Linked DNA regions of Homo sapiens: region 1 is linked to region 2. A link means that fine-mapping ties the variant in region 2 to the expression of a gene that starts in the linked region. Tissue or cell type: whole blood. Region 2 holds a variant in brackets; the other region holds the start of a gene. All regions are shown on one strand. Distances are from middle to middle.

Evidence for each region. PIP is the estimated chance that this variant, and not a neighbour inherited with it, causes the effect.
Region 1: LINC01801 starts here. The variant in region 2 is fine-mapped to the expression of LINC01801 in whole blood (TOPMed, PIP above 0.99).

What each region holds. Positions count from the first base shown.
Region 1 is chr19:34,828,605-34,836,789 of GRCh38, reverse strand. It overlaps LINC01801 (long intergenic non-protein coding RNA 1801), which reads left to right and starts at 3,921. Exons shown (of 6, transcript NR_033982.1): 1 at 3,921-4,065; 2 at 4,254-4,460; 3 at 6,264-6,384; 4 at 7,537-7,626.
Region 2 is chr19:34,813,928-34,822,112 of GRCh38, reverse strand. It overlaps LINC01801 (long intergenic non-protein coding RNA 1801), which reads left to right. Exons shown (of 6, transcript NR_033982.1): 5 at 3,347-3,526; 6 at 4,623-5,959. Among named protein-coding and RNA genes, the nearest start is that of LINC01801, 15 kb to the left of the region's middle. The variant G/C (reference allele first, on the strand shown) is at 3,668.

The DNA of each region.
Region 1 (8,185 bases), 15 kb before region 2:
GAAAACATATGTACACAAAAAGGCTTGCATGACACAAAAAGCCTTGCATAGTAGGCAAAATTCATAAAAGCCTTATTCATAATAAGCATAATATGGAAATATCCCTGATACCAATCCACATGAGAATAGAAAAAGAAATTATGAAGTATTCATATTACTCAGCTATCAAAGAAAATAACCCCTGATGACAGACAACAAAAGTACAAAAGCACAGCATTCTGCTAAGTGAAAAGAATCCTTGCACAGGAATGCATACTGCATGTCCCTATTTATATGAAAAGCTAGGACAGCCAAAACTAACCTATCTTGGGACAATCCTTGAAGAATTGGAGAGGATTGACTGAACCTGGAGGTACAACTGGATCACAGCAGTGAGCAAATCAGGGCGTTGGGTCGAAATCAAAATACAGAGATAAATCTCTATAAATATAAACTGTTTTATTTGGGAAGTGAAAATTGCAATTCAGGGCACACAACTGGGCAGCCTTTTAGAAGAACAAATAGAAAGAGGTTTCGTTAAAAGAGCAAAGACAATTTATTTTGCAAAGACAACTCATTGGCACTAGTAAAGTTTTGGGGAGCTGGCAAGTTCTGATTGGTAAGTGATAGCAGTGGGTAAAAGTAATCATAGAGTCCGGCAGGTTGTTTCAGAAGCTACTACATAAAACCGTTTTTGGGTTACAGCAGGCAATTTCAGCAGCTAGGCTTGCAAAGAATTACATTCTTGGCGTGCCCTGAGTGTGTTTTCTCCTCCTGGCCTTCCAATTCTGTTTTAGTTGGGTATAACAAGAATGGCTCAATTTATATAATCAACTTTCACACTTGCCAGCCATAGGAAGCCAGGGCATCCTACCCATAAGTGACTCTCTCTCCAAGGGCTGAGCTGTTCTCTTCCTGTGCCGACAAACTGCTCCAGGGAGAGGGGATCTGGCTGATCCAACATGGGTCAAAGTCCCACAGTCCAGATATATGTGTCTCAGAAGGTGGGGGGTTCTCATGGTCCATGGACTTTCCTTCAGATAATGTTGGAATTGCTCCGAGAAGGGCTAGTGATTTTTACCCCTATGTTCACCATGCCTTTTCTGCACACAAGAGTGCTTGTGTCTTTGCTCTCTTCTTGCACTGCTCCTCCCGGCTGACCATCTTCCCATTCTCTGCCGTGCCCCTACCTTAACATTGTTTTCTAAATGAACCTTTTTCATGTTTAAAAACTGTTATAACAGTTAGAAAGAAAATCTGGCCTTCTCTGCCATTATTATGGCCAATTGCATCTACGTAGCAAAATCTGTTTATAAAACAATGATTTTAGAATGATATTCTTTCTACCTTTGCTTCGTTTTTTTCAAATCAAGTTTTGGAGGTAAAATTCAGCAATTTCAGCGGCTGCTGAGAAAAAAATTCAGAGTCAGGACCTGCCAATGAAGAGGGTCCCCAAAAAATACTCAGGTTTTCATGTAAAACGTCTGAAAGCCAGTATCCCAGAAATAAGGATAACAGGAGAGAGCCAGCCTTCAAAAAGAGTGAAGCATGGCTCTGACTTACATTAATCTCAGAATAAAGTGTGCTTTCCCATCCTAGCTGCCTTCTACATCCAAAGGTAAATCCCTTCAGAGGATTTATAGTAGCATCAATAAACATGAAATAAATCTACAAAAGACATGCAAATCGACAGGAGAATTCCAGAGCTAAATGTGAAAAGTTAAGCAATAAACCTCATAGTAGGCATCACTGAAAATTTCCATGATATTGGAAGTGATGCTGGGCAGGCAAGCCCAAATTGGGGCTTAGCTTGGGAGGGTTCTTTGCTTCACCCAGCAAAGGATTCAAGGGTGAGCTGGTGGTGGAAGAAGACAGCTCTATTGAAGAGGCAGTGTTACAGCTCTGTGACTGCTCCTGCAGAGCACGGTTACTCTATCGGCAGGGCGCAGAGAGCAGCAGCTCAGGGCAGTTCTGCAGTCATATTTACATCTACTTTTAATTGCATGCAGATTAAGGGGTGGTTTATGCTGAAATTTCTAGGAAAAGGGTAGTAACTTCTGGGTCATTGGGTCATTGCCATGGAAAGGAGCAGTAATTCCTGCATGTTGCCATGACAAATGTAAACTGACATAGCACACTGGTGGGTGTGTCTGATGGAAAGCTGCTTCCACCCTGACCCTGTTTTAGCTAGTCCTCAATTTGCTCCAGTGTCCAAGCCCCGGCTCTGGAGTCGAGTCCTGCGTCCTACCTCAGAAGTAGTCGAAAACATACACATGAATGTTCACAGCAGCATTATTTCTTTCTTTTTTTTTTTTAAAGAGAGATGGGGGTCTCACTATGTTGGCCAGGTTGGTCTTGAACTCTTGGTCTCAAGCAATCCTCCCTCCTCAGTCTCCCAAACTGCTAGGATTACAGGCATGAGCCACTACACCTAGCCACAGTAGCATTATTATTTCTAATAGCCAAACATCCATCAATAATAGAATGGGTAAATTATATTTGTTCAATGGAACATCACACAGCAATATAAAAGAATAAAGTGCTGCTAAAAGCAACAACATGGATGAATTTTATGAAGTGTTGAATGAAAAGACACAGCCACAAACAGGACACATGGTAGGGTTCCATTTATATAAAGTTTTTAAATAGGCAAAACTAATCTATAATGTTAAAAATTTGGGAGGGGCATAGTGACTAGGAATGAGCATGAGGTTGATTCTGAGGTGCCTGTGTTTTGCTTCTTGATCTAGATTACATAGGTTTGTTCATTCTGCAAAAATGTATTGAGGAATAGACAGATGATTTGTACACTTCTGTGTATGAATGTTATATTGTAAAGTTTCTTGAAGAATACCTGTTTACAAGAGTTAGAGAACATGGAAGCTCTTTCTCTGAGATAAAACATCTAAAAAGACAAAAATTAGCCGGGCGTGGTGGTGGGTGCCTGTAATCCCAGCTACTCGGGAGGCTGAGGCAGGAGAATGTCTTGAACCCGGGAGACAGAGGTTCTAGTGAACCAAGATCACACCACTGCACTCCAGCCTGGATGACAGAGGAAGACTCTGAGACTCCGTCACAAAAAAGAAAAAACAAACAAACAAACAAACAAAAAAGCCCTAAGTCATATCATGCCAGTCTCAGCAGTTTGAAACCCTCCATGGTTCCCATCTCTCAGTAAAAGGCAACGTTCTTATGACATCCTTCAAGGCCCCATGTAGTCTTTTGGTCCCTCTCCATCTCTGTCCTCCTGTCATCCACGTCTCCCACGTGCTGATTGGGTCTGGTAGGGTGACTGGGTGGCAAAGACCTCACAGAGGTGCCTTTCTGCTCAGGTGGCAAACAGGAGAGTCTATCTGGGCCCTGCAGGATGGATCCTTCCTGAGTCACTGAATATATTGGAGGTGCAGACAGCGCCAGAGAAAGGCATTGAGCCTGCCAGATCAGACACCGCCTCTTAGGGTCGACGGAACACCCAGGAGCAAAGACCAGAAATTGTGGGAGAAAGGCCTGGAAGGGGGCCGGGGAGAGGCACAGAGACAGCGAGGTGATGCAGGCTTGGTGGGAGCGGGTATGGTAGGCAATGGGGGACAGAGGGGCAGGGCACAGACAAAGCTTGCTGAAGATATGAAGAGCAATTGTGAGCCGGCGAATCCTTGGAGTAGAGGAGAAAATTGAGGTCTCCTGTTCAGCCCGATGCAGGTGAGATGCTGTTGGAACACGTGACAGAGAAAGGGTGTGTGAGCCCAGGGCTTGTGCACTAAGCGCACAGGAGCGAAGGGGGCGAGAAGAAAAAACGACGCCCAGCAAAGAGCGTCAAGGCCCAACCGCCTGCCCCCAACCGGTCTCTAGCGCCTCGTGACCTTCTGCACTCCGTTGCAGGCGTTTGGCACCAGATGGTCCCACGCGCTCTGTTCGACGGTTGGGGGCCGCGGACGCTGGTTGTCAGCAGCACTGGGTCAGCCGGTGAACGGGTGTGCAGCGTCCTCAGCGCCGCAGCAGTCAGCACCTGTGGGTGCTCTAGCTCTTTCCCTCGGGGTCACCGGAGGCAGAGCCTCCCCTACGCGGAGTAGAGGAGCAGCTCACATGGTGCGGGGGTGGGGATCGGGCTTCCTGGAAGGCTGGAAATGGGAGTTGGGATAAGGGGTTGGCGAGGGCGGGGCGGCACCGTCTACCGGGGTGACCGGTGTGCCCTGGCAGCCAGGGAGTCTGCTGCAGGGCAGGTATTAAGATTCGGAGAGACATAGGACAAAGAACCCTCGGCCTCTTCTTTTCAGGCAGCCGCCACAGAGGACACCAGATCATGCCAACACCCCCACAACTCCTGCCCGCCTGCAGGCAGCTCTGGGCTCAGGACACCGCCTGCAAGAACCTTTATAGCGCAGCTCTCCAAACCTTGGAGGCGAGGACATTCTATGTGCCCGCCCTGGAAAGGCCTGAACCTATAACATCTGGGCTGTGATGGTTTCTGAGGTGGACACCAGGTATTCTAAACTGCCCACATGCTTCACCCCAAAACTTCCCTTTCTAACAGGCAGTGTATTTTCACTTCTTTTAAAATATTTGGTAAAACAGCATTTAAGCCTTAGAAAGTTCCCCATCTCACCCCAGCCAGGGTTTGAACCCATGCTGTCTGATTCCACAGATCATGCATTTAACCACCAGACTTTGGTGTAGCCTCACCGTGTGTGCATAATGGATTACACTTGTTTATAATACTTGGGGTGCTTAGCACCATGTCAGAGCTGTAATGAGTACTTGCACTGTTAGGAGGTCTAACATGGTTCAATTTATAAGTGGACCATTGGCCACACCGGGTCTGGCTCAGTCTCCTGGGAGGATGTAGGCAGGGACCACCAATTATCAGCATATCTCCATGATGAATTTCTCCAGACAGCGTATCACTCTGTCACACAGGCTGGAGTCACAGCTCACTGCAACCTCGAACTCCTGGGCTCAAGAGATCCTCCCACCTCAGCTTCCCAAGTAGCTGAGACTGCAGGCATGCGCCACCACGCCTGATAATTTCTCTTCTAATTGAGCTTTGCAGAAAGCCACACAGCTGTCTGAGAGCTATTTTCTCCCAGGTATAGGGACAGGAAATGGCACCTCAGACTTCTGCAGATTCCACCCTGGCTTAAAAGCCCATGCCCCCAAGGACACCAATCTTTCTTACAATAACATAGACTATCTTTCAGGGTCCTGGCCAAGATGGACAACTTGCCAATATTAACTTTTCCAGGCCACAGGGATGATATATATCTCCATAGATTTAGGTCTTGAGTATTTTCTCCTAGAAATATTTCGCAGCAAGGGTCAGCACTGCAGCCTATGGGCCAACAAATTTAGCCTGTAGCCTACATGTAAGGCCAGTGAGTGAAGGATCCTATTAACAATTTTAAAGAGTTGCAGCAGAATACACAGAAACACAAAGAGTCTGTGTCACAGACAACGTGACCCACAAAGGCTATGCTACTTATTAGGCTGGTGCAAAAGTAATTGTGGTTTTTGCCATTACTTTCAAACCGCAATTACTTTTGTACCAACCTCATACTATCTGGCTTTTTAAGAGAAAATTTGCAACTGTTTTGCAGTTGTCTGTGCATAGATCTTCCACAGCTTTTGCTAATTTATTTCTAAGTATTCTATGGGGTTTGTAAATGCTATTGTAAATGGAATCTTTTAAATTTTAATTTTTGATAGTTCATTGGTAGAATATAGGTAATACATATAATACAGTCCAGTGTCGCTTTAACAATGGGAATACCTTCTGAGAAATGCATCATTAGGTGATTTTCGTCATTGTGCAAACATCATAGACTGTACCTACACAAACCTAGATGGTATAATTGACTATACTCCTAGGCCATATGGTATAGCCTGTAGCTACAAACCTGTACGGCATATACTGAATTTGAGGCAATTGTAACACAACGTTAAGTCTTTGTGTATCTAAATATATCTAAACACAGAAAAGAAACAGTAACAATGTCATATTATCTTATGGGAACACTGTCGTATATGCAGTTCATTGTTGACCAAAACCTTGTTATGAGGTGCATGACTGTGTATGTACATAAATGTATATATGCATACATATTGAGTTTGTATATTGAACCTCACTGAAATCGCTTTTGATTTCAGGTAGTTTCTTTGCAGATTCCATAGGATTTTCTACATACACAATAATGTTTCTAGGAATCATGTTTCTGTGAATAAAGCTAGTTTTCCTTCTGTTGTAATCTACATGCTTTTTATTTCTCTTTATTTCCTTCTGTATTTGCCAGGACCAACACTTGTCAGCATGGCACAATCAGGCATTTCTCTTCTAAGTAGGATGTGCAGCCAAAAACTCAGCTGTCTGTGAGCTGTCTTCTCCCAGGAACGAGGACATAAGATGTACATCAGGTAGATACAAGATCCATGCTAGCTTAAAAGCTTTATGCCCCAAGGGCACCAATATCACTTGCAATAATTCCATAGGCCAGCTGTCAGGGCCCTGGGTGAGATTGATAATTGACCAATATCAACTTCCCTAGCCCCTGAAAATGATGATGATGATGGGGTGTGTGTGTGTGTGTGTGTGTGTGTGTGTGTGTGTGTGTGTGTGTACTCACGTACTATATACATATATTGGCATATAGTAGTATATGGACAAAACAACTGCTTTTGATATATTTACTTTTGTATTGAAACCTTGCTCATTTTCTATTTACATTTTGTAGTTTCTTTGTAGATTCTTTAGTGTTTTTTTTTTTTTAGTCTTGCTGTATCCCCCCTAGGCTGGAGTACAGTGGTGCAATCTCAGCTCCCTGCATCCTCTGCCTCCTGGGTTCAAGCGATTCTCTTGCCTCAGCCTCCTGAGTAGCTGGGATTATAGGCATGTGCCACCATGCCCAGCTAATTTTTGTTTTTTTAGTAGAGACCAGGTTTCACCATATTGGCCAGGCTGGTCTTGAACTCCTGACCTCAGGTGATCTGCCCACCTCGGCCTGCCAAAGTGCTGTGATTACAAGTGTGAACCACTGTGCCCAGCCCTCTTTCAGATGTTCTACATAGACAAACGTTTTCTGTGCTTAAAGGCACTTTTCTTTCTTCTCTTTTAATCTCTATGCCTTTTATTAATTTTTCTTATCTTCTACATTTGCTGCAACATCCAGGAAACTATCAAATACAAGAAGAGACAATGGATATTCTTTCCCAGTTCCTAATCATAGGTTAAGAGTATTCAGTATGGTATTAACTGAAGATTTTTTGTAGATATGCTTTATCACAGAAATGAATTCTCTCGAATTCCTGCTTTACTTAGAATGTTTTTGGTAAGTGGTGTGAGACCCACAGCTATTGAGATCACCATAGGACATTTCTCTTTTATTCTCTTAATATGATGAATTACATTGATTGATTTTTAGGTGTTAAATGAATCTTTGCCTTCCTGGGGAAAAACTTACTTAGTCACAAAAGATCATCTTTTTATATTTGGTTTTCCTAAAGTGTTGCCAAAGACTTTTGTGTCTATGTTATGAGCGATATTAATCTGTAATTTTCTCTTCTTGTTAGGTTTTGATATTAGAGTAATACTGGCCTTATAGAATGAGTTACGAAAAGTTGCCCCTTTCTCCACTTTCTGAAAGAGTTTGTGTAACACAGGTAAAATATTGTTCTTACACATTTGATAGAATTCACCTGAAAAACCGTCTGGAACTGCATATTTTTTCTTAGAGGATGTTTATAATTCCCCATTACCCTTTTAATGTCTTTCAGATCTGACTCATGCCCTTCCCTTTTTATTCCTAATATTGGTAATTTGAGTTTTCTCTTTGTTATTTCTTCTTCAATCTTGATAGAGGTTTCTCCATTTTATTACACTTTATAATTTCTATATTATATATAGAAATGTCTATAAATAGAAATTAATAGAATTAATGTGTCTCTATCATTTCTATTTCCGTGTCTATTTTTATTATTTCTTCTTTTCCATTCATTTTATATTTAATTTATTCCTTGATTCTTCTACTCAGGGTAGAAACCTAAATCATTGTTTCTTAAAATGTTTCTGTTTTAAACATAAACGCTTAAAGCTGCCACACTTTAGCTGTCTATCACAAATTTTGATTTGCTGTGTTTTGCTTATTCAGTCCAAAATATTTTATATTTTTCCTTGTTATTTTTTAATATATTGATTATATAAAAGTGTGTCTTGCTTTCA
Region 2 (8,185 bases):
TTTGTTTTGTTTTGTTTTGTTTTTGCTTTTGTTTTGAGACGGAGTCTTGCTCTGTCGCCCAGGTTGGAGAGCAGTGGTGCGATCTCGGCTCATGCAAGCTCCGCCTCCCAGGTTCACGCCATTCTGCTGCCTCAGCCTCCCAAGTAGCTGGGACTACAGTCACCCACCACCATGCCCAGCTAACTTTTTGTATTTTTAGTAGAGACGGGGTTTCACCGTGTTAGCCAGGATGGTCTCTATCTCCTGGCCTCATGATCCGCCCGCCTCGGCCTCCCAAAGTGCTGGGATTACAGGCATGAGCCACTGCTCCCAGCCTCAAGTGTTTTTTTTATACATAGCATATAGTTTTGTATTTTTAATCCAATCTAACAATCTCTGCCTTTAAAATCATACATTTAGACAATTAAATTTAATATGGTTAGATGTCGTTGTGTTTACACTGACAATTTTGCTGTTGCTTCCTGTTTGTTCCATCTGGTCTTTGTTTCTTTTTCCTCTTTGTATACCTTCTTTTGGATTATTTTCATGATTCCATTTTATCTCTTTTGTTTACCTACTAAATATAATTCTTAAGTGTTTTTAAAGTGATTCTTTATATTATATAGGATATACTACATACTATAGTATAAACTATATAGAGTAACATATATAGTCTACCTCCAAGTAATATTATATTGTTTCACATATAGTATAAGAACTATACAATAAGAACAGTACACTTCCATTTCTCTCTTATCATTTGTGCCATTGTGCCATACATTTTACTTTTACAGAAAGTGTTTGACATGCACACACAAACACCCCCATACAAACACATATGTATGTATATGCATATATTTTTATATTTACTTTTTCCATTGCTACTCATTCGCTTGTGTAGATCCAGATTTCTAACTTGCACTATTTTTATCTTGCCCGGACTTCCTTTAGTTTTTTTTTTTTAATGAAAGGTATGCTAGCGATAAGCATTTACGTGTATAAAAAGGTTGAGTTGTGTGTGTGTGTGTGTGTACCTTCACTTTTAAAAGAGTTTCACTGGGTGTAGTTTTAGCACCTGTGTCTCCACATTCTGGCAGGTTCACAGGGTATAGGTTCACAGTATTTTTTTCTTTCGAGTTTTAAAAAATGCTAACTCATTGAGTTCTAGCTTGTGTATTTCCAATGAGAGGTGTGCCATATTCTGTTTCGGGGGAACTTTTGAAAATAATATATTCAAGTTTTGTTCATTCGTCTGTAGCTACATCTTACTTTTTCTTTGTTTCTCATTAGAACAATGCATGTGTTCTACTGGAACACATAATGTGTGCTTTTTCTTGGGATGTCTTTTGATTTTCTCCTAGAGACTAAGCAGTTTGATTATGATGTACCTGGATTTAGTTTTTTTCATGTTTTTTGTTATCTGATATCTTAAATTCATCATTTGTGTGATGGTTTGAGGTAGGGGTAATTTCCATATGCACAACCAATGAACTCAACCACATGTATTTAGGAGTCTGTTATCCTCCCATGTCCTCCCTCCCTATTTTCCCCTTCTAGGAATTCTCCCTCGGCCATCTTTTTTCACACGCCCAGTGACCGAGTATACCTTGATGAGGCCAAAACCTTTTCTAAACTCAAATAGCAAGTCTATGGATTCCTTCTTCCTTTTCCACACATACTCCTGCCATTCAGGCCAACAGAAAATGCTTCAAAATATCTACAAATTTTACTTCTCATCACCTGCACCACCACCACTGTGTCCAAGCTTTCATGATTATGACCATAGCCACCTAAATGGTCTCTCATCCCCAGAAACCAGAATGATCCTATTAAGCCTCAGTCAGATCACGTCATCCTTTGCTCCAAACCCTCCATGATTTCCATCTGTGAGTAAAAGGCAATGTTCTTATCACATCCTCCAAGGCCCCACTTAGTCTCTTCATCCCTCTCCATCTCTATTCCCCCTTCTTCCCACTCTGCAAAGTGCCAACTTCATCCTGGTCCCCTATTGAGTTGCTCACTGCTCCCTGCGGGCAAGAGACATCCTTCCTCTGAGCCTTTACAGTGGCTAGTCCAACTAATTGGAATGCCTTTCCCTCAGATAACTGTGTGGTTTGCTTAATTGTTGCCTTCTAGACTTTGCTCAGATTCCACCTTCCCAATGAGGTTTACCATTTCCAGTCTATTTAAATAGAAACTCACACTTCTCTCTAGCCCTAAACTCAATCCTACGTTGGCTGCCCTTCGTCTCCCTGCAGTTGTTACTGGAACCTATCAAATAATTTACTAATTTATTACATTTGTTGTTTATTTTATTTTCTCCAACTAGAATTAGGTTTCATAAGATTTTTATCCTTGTTTTTAAAAAATTGATGCTATTACCTAAAGTATTCCTTAGACTACTCATTTTGTCTCAAATAATAATATATATGCCCAACTGATGACTAAATGGGTAAATGAATGGCTTTATGAATATCACCTACGTCTTCCATAGCCATGTCAGACTATTAGAAAGTTAACTTAATGTATGTTTTCCAAAACAACTCATGTCCGTTTATCTAAACCAGATGGCTAAAATAGCCCTGGTCTTGTTGGCATCGCCTACTTCCCCTTGCCTCTTCCCTTACCTCTTCAACCATCCCACTGTCAGTTCCTCTAGACTGGGAGCTCAGTGGCTCATTTTTGCATTGGATCACTGCAAAAAAATTTCCTAAGCCTATCTGCTTCTATTCTGGCATCTATTTAATTCTTCCTTTCAGGGAGGCATAGAGTGTTTCTAAAATCTACATATATCATGTAACTTCTTTGCTTATCCTTTCACGATTCCTCATACTTTGTGGATAATGGACAAATGCCCCCTGATGGTATGTCTGTTTGTCCATGATCTGCACTTGCTGAACACAGCAGCCACATCTCCCAGCTTGGGTTTCACTCTCCAACCACATTTGATTACTTGCCTGGTGTCCCACAGGGTCATGATCTCTTTCTTCCTTGACTTTTAATTTAATTTAATTGAATTTAAAGTTCCAGGATACATGTGCAGGTTTGTTACACAGATTAGTCTTCCCTGACTTTTAGCATGCTATTTCTTTGACCCCCAAATAGCCTTTCTCTGCCTGGACACTTCTTCCTTCTTCTTTTTTTTATTATTTTTTATTTTTTCCATCTCTCTCACACCTAGTTTTATGTCCTTCTTACCTACTCCCGTATCGCCACCACTATCTTTCCAGGTGTAATATTTGGTTTATCTATCTGTCTCTCTCTGCTATACTGTAAATTGCTGGGCTGCAAGAGATAAATCTTTGAATTCTATATCACCAAGACCTAGCACTGTTTAATATAATACATTGACTCTTGAACAACACAGGTCTGAACTGCACAGATCCACTTACATGTGGATTTTCTTCCACTGCGGCCTCTCCTGAGACAGCAAGACCAACCCCTCCTTTTCATCCTCCTCCTCCTCCTCAGCCTACTCAACATGAAAATGACAAGGATGAAACCTTTATGATGATCCACTCATCCATTTTCTTTTCTCTAGCTTATTGTAAGTATGCTGTATATAATACATATAACATACAGAATGTGTTAACTGTTCATGTTATCAGTGAGGCCTCCAGTCAACAGTAGGCTACTAGTGGTTAAGTTTTGGGGAAGTCACAAGTCATGCAGACATTTTGGACTGCGT[G/C]GGGGAAGCAGCACCCCTTACCCCCACGCATTGTTCAAGGGACAACTGTAATCTGTAAGCAGCTGAAGGAAATGCTTGTACTTTATTTTTCTTTCCACCATCTTAAGATACCTTCATGGGTTGTAAAATACTTTAAAAAGATTGTATTTTCAGCACAGTACAACTCCAAGGTCAGCCAAGTCTGTGTGAAATTATAAATCTTGTGACGATATTTTTGTGGTTAGGACTCGAGATAGACCAGTTATTTTTCCAAATAGAACCTATCCTGCTATTTACCTTAAAAGATAATCATTTGTAATGTGTCAAAGCAACATGATACCAATATCTATGTAATCTATTACATCCTAACAGACTTAAATTTTTTTTAAATTACGGAGCAGTCATGCGTGAGTTCTTTCTTCCTTTTTTCCTCCAGGCCCAAAAGCCTGATTGCCAAGCCAATCATCCATAGGTGAAAGTGTGAATGTTGCTGGACGTGGTGGCTCACACCTGTTATCCCAACTCTTTGGGAGGCCAAGGCGGGAGGACCACTTGAGCCAAGTTTGAGACCAGGCTGGGCAACATGATGAGATCCCCATCTCTCCCCCACAACCCCCTGCAGCCAAAAAAAAAATTGTGAATGTGTGTGAATTACTGGCATACAACTAAATTAAACAAGCAAAAAAGACATTTAAACTCCATGTTCTAGATCCTGGGCCCTGGGCCACAGAAACTTTGCACAGTTAAGCCTGGCTCAACAATCATGGCTTATACAAGTCAGTATTTTCTCCATCATTGAGTTAGAGCAAAAACACATGAGCAGAGGAAACATGGCAGACATAGATAGCAGTGGGTGTCCTGACAGTTCCAAGACAGGAGGAAACCCCCCCAAAGCTTAGGTCTTCCAGGATAACACTGAAACTAGAGTGTAGTGTTGCACGGCTGATACTCACCCATCTCTCTCTTCTCTCCACAGGTGAACATCTTAGGCTAGTGTGTCGACTTCTGACTTGGCTCATCTGAACCCAAGTCCTTGGACACATTCACAAACACCCCAGGGTCTTGGGCTTCCAGTTTGTGCTAGAAGGACAAAGGGCAGGTGAAGCTTGTTTGCCGTAACTAGAAGGAGCAGAAACTGCTCCCAGCAGAACAAGATCAAATCATGGGGAACAGTGGTCACCTGCCATTTCTAGAGGAAGCTTTTGCTTTTGGTCACTGAGGACCCTAAGTCTTACATGAGAAGAAAACAAATAGGGTGATGCTGCATGCTTCTGTCCCCAAAGAATCCCTGTGCAGGTGCCGAGGGTGCCCCAAAGACGAGGCTGTGCTTGCCGTGCCCACCACAGAAGCACATTTGACCTGATCAAAAGCAGGTGGAAAAGGTCCTGAAGCACAGATATTTTCTCAGTGATGTTGTTTTCTCCAAAATGAAAGAGGGAAGGTACCCTGGCTTAGGCCCCTGGTGTTCTGATTGAAGGTGAGAATGGAAGTATCTTCTTCAACATGTTCTCCCATCTGACTGCAACAAGTGTGCTCCAGCCACCAGTGTCCCAGTTGCTCTGAATGATGGTGAGAAGGGTACCCAAACACTTGAATGGTACTGTACCCTCTACTTGCCATCTGAATCCTCACTTGTGGAACCCAGGCACTCTGGCTGTATTCGCGAGTAAGCATAGGTGTGGGACTGTGTCCTGCCATTGCACCATCTTTAATCTGGACTTGTGGACCTCAGGCTCTCTGACTATTCATGGACAGAAGTTTCTGCAGGCACAGGTGGGGTGCTGTTTCCTCCCATTGTACACCTGAATTCAGGACTTGTGGACCCCAGGTGTTCTGGCTGTGTTCATGAACAGAAGTGTCCCCCCCAAACAAACCCATATATGGTGCCATCTCCTCCCATTACAGGTATGGTGCCATCTCCTCCCATTGCAGGCATTGCACTGCCTATACTCTGGACTTATGGCCCTCACATGCTCTGATTGTATTCATAAACAGTAGTTTCTTCAGTCACAGATATGGCACCAGCCCCTCCAACAGAAACAGATGTGCTCAAGCTGAGTGGTCCAAAGGCGTTTGACAGAAGTCATGAACAGAAGTATCTTGGGGCACATGTTTCTTCTCTGTTGTGCAGGCTTCTCCAGCAGTAACAGGTTTGCCCAGGCCATATGGGCCCCAAGCGCTCTGACCAGACACAAGAAGAGAAGACTTGCAGTCACAGGTAGTGTGTTGTCCCCTGCTACTGCAACATAGGTGCTTGGAAAGGTGCAACAGGGTGCTCTGCTTGTGGTGGAAACATAAAGGCCTCCAAGCATAGATGTGCTGCTTTCTCCTTCCCTTTGAGGGATGCAGATGTGCTCTGGCCAGCTGCATTCCAGGTGGTCTGTCTGCAAGACAGAAGTGTCCCAAGCACTGGTATGTGCGGGCTCCTCCAACCACAACAGACGTGCTTTGGCCAGATGGTTTCCAGGTGTTATGAACACAAGAAGGAACAGAGGTGCCTTCTGGAACATGTTTCTTCTCAGTGATGTTCTAAGAGGTGTGCTTTGGCAGGACAGGCCCCAGCTGCTCTGACTGTAGGCAGGGAGGAAAGTGTTTCCCAGGAGTTTTTGCTTTCAGTAGTACTGCCCTCTCCAACTGTACCAGAGGTGCTGTAGGCTTGCAGGAACCCCGGTGCTCATGTGTAAGCCTCCCCAACATAAACTAAGGTGCTGCATGCCCCTCTAGGCCCTGTTCTAAAGCTGAGTGCTTCAGATGTGGAGCTGGGTCTGGGGCAGACACACTGGTCCTAGAGCTGTCATTATCCAAAGAAGCCCCAGAGTCCATGAATGGAAATGGGTCGAGAGAGGGGTTAGCAAAAGGTGAACTGTGCCTGATGCTGAGCATCCAGTGATGGCTCCAGAGCTAGAAGTAGTGGCTGTGCAAATGGGAAAAGGACCCGAGGTGCCACCCAAGGCTGAGTGGGTGCTAGCAGAGATATCAAAGATGGATATGGAGGTAACACGTACGCAAAATCTGATGGCATTATGCTCCCATTGGGTGTCTGGGCTGCAGTAAAGGCTCAGTTTAGAGCTTGTATTGAGATTTTACGTTTCTCAAAGGGTAAATGCTATCAAATACATTGGGGGATCCTGCCAGGGGGAGGCTAGAAAGAGGACATGGTAACCATATTGATTTCATCAGAGTTAAAGGCAGACTTGGCTGCCCAGTTGGTCAAGGTCCTAGCTACTAGAAAACAGACAATTGCTGAAGTAGTGATAAGTATGATGGTGCAGACAGGTATCCTAGAAGACTGACTCTTTGCTGCTGCCCTTTAGGAGCTCCAAATGTGACTGAGAGGTGGCTTCTGGGCTAAAGGAAAGGTTCAAAGTGGGGTAGGGCTGTTTACCATAAACATAGGTGGGTTAGTGGGGACTGCCTTTTGCAGGGGGCTGTCCACTCCACACTGCAATGAGCCAGTCAAATGGGAGTTCCAAGACCAGAGGAAACCTAGCCCAGAGCTTGAGTCTTCCAGGCTAACCCTGGGTCCTGGGGGGACCAGGAGATGAGACCCAGGGAATAGTAGTGTCCATGTCGGTCATCTCAAAGGTTCAAAGCAGGCTGGGAGGTCAAGTCTGCAGATGGGCTGACTGGGCAGTGGAAGTGATAAGGTTGGCCAGTTAATGATGGGTTGATATATTCATCTGTTTTCACACTGCTATGAAGAACTATGTGGGGCTGGGTAATTTATAAACAAAAGAGGTTTAATTAACTCACAGTTCCACATGGCTGGGAGGCCACAGGAAACTTACAATCATGGCAGAAGGCAAAGGGGAAGCAAGGCATGTCGTACTTGGTGGCAGGAGAGAGTGCAGAGGAAACTGCCACTTATAAACCGTCAGATCTCATGAGAATTCCCTCACTATCATGAGAACAGCATGGGGGAGACCACCCCTACAATCCAGTCACCTCCCACCAAGTCCCTCCCTCCACACATGGGAATTACAATTCAGATTACAATTCAAAATGAGATTTGGGTGGGGACATAGAGCCAAACCATATCAGTTAGTCAGTGAAGACTGAGGTATCTGTAGAAGTGAGGGAGGAGCACAGTGGTCTGGATGAACCAGTGGGGTGATAGTCAGGGGACTGGCATTCAGTGAGGCTGGGGGAGAAGCTTCCTAAAAGCATTGCCCTTGAAAAGCAGGGCATACCTATCTGATACTGAGGATGTAGAATGCAGTTTGGAGATGCTTCCTAGCTACCTAATCTTCCAAGGCAAACCATGCACTCTTCATCCTGATATTTGTGATGCCTCCCTGGGCTACATGACAGAGGGTGCACTGCAAAGGATGTGAAGGAAAGTCACCACAGGGCAAAGGTGGAAACCCAGGGGCCTTTCCCCAGTGAGACTTTCTGGCTGTTCCTTTGGAACTTCCACCTGCTAGTTGCAGATGTTTGCCACTGGATGGGGCCCCATGCTACGTGGGAACTGTTCAGGACTGTGGGTACTTAGTTCCAGCAGAGCTGGCTCCACCAGGGCACCAGGACTGCAGGCTTCTC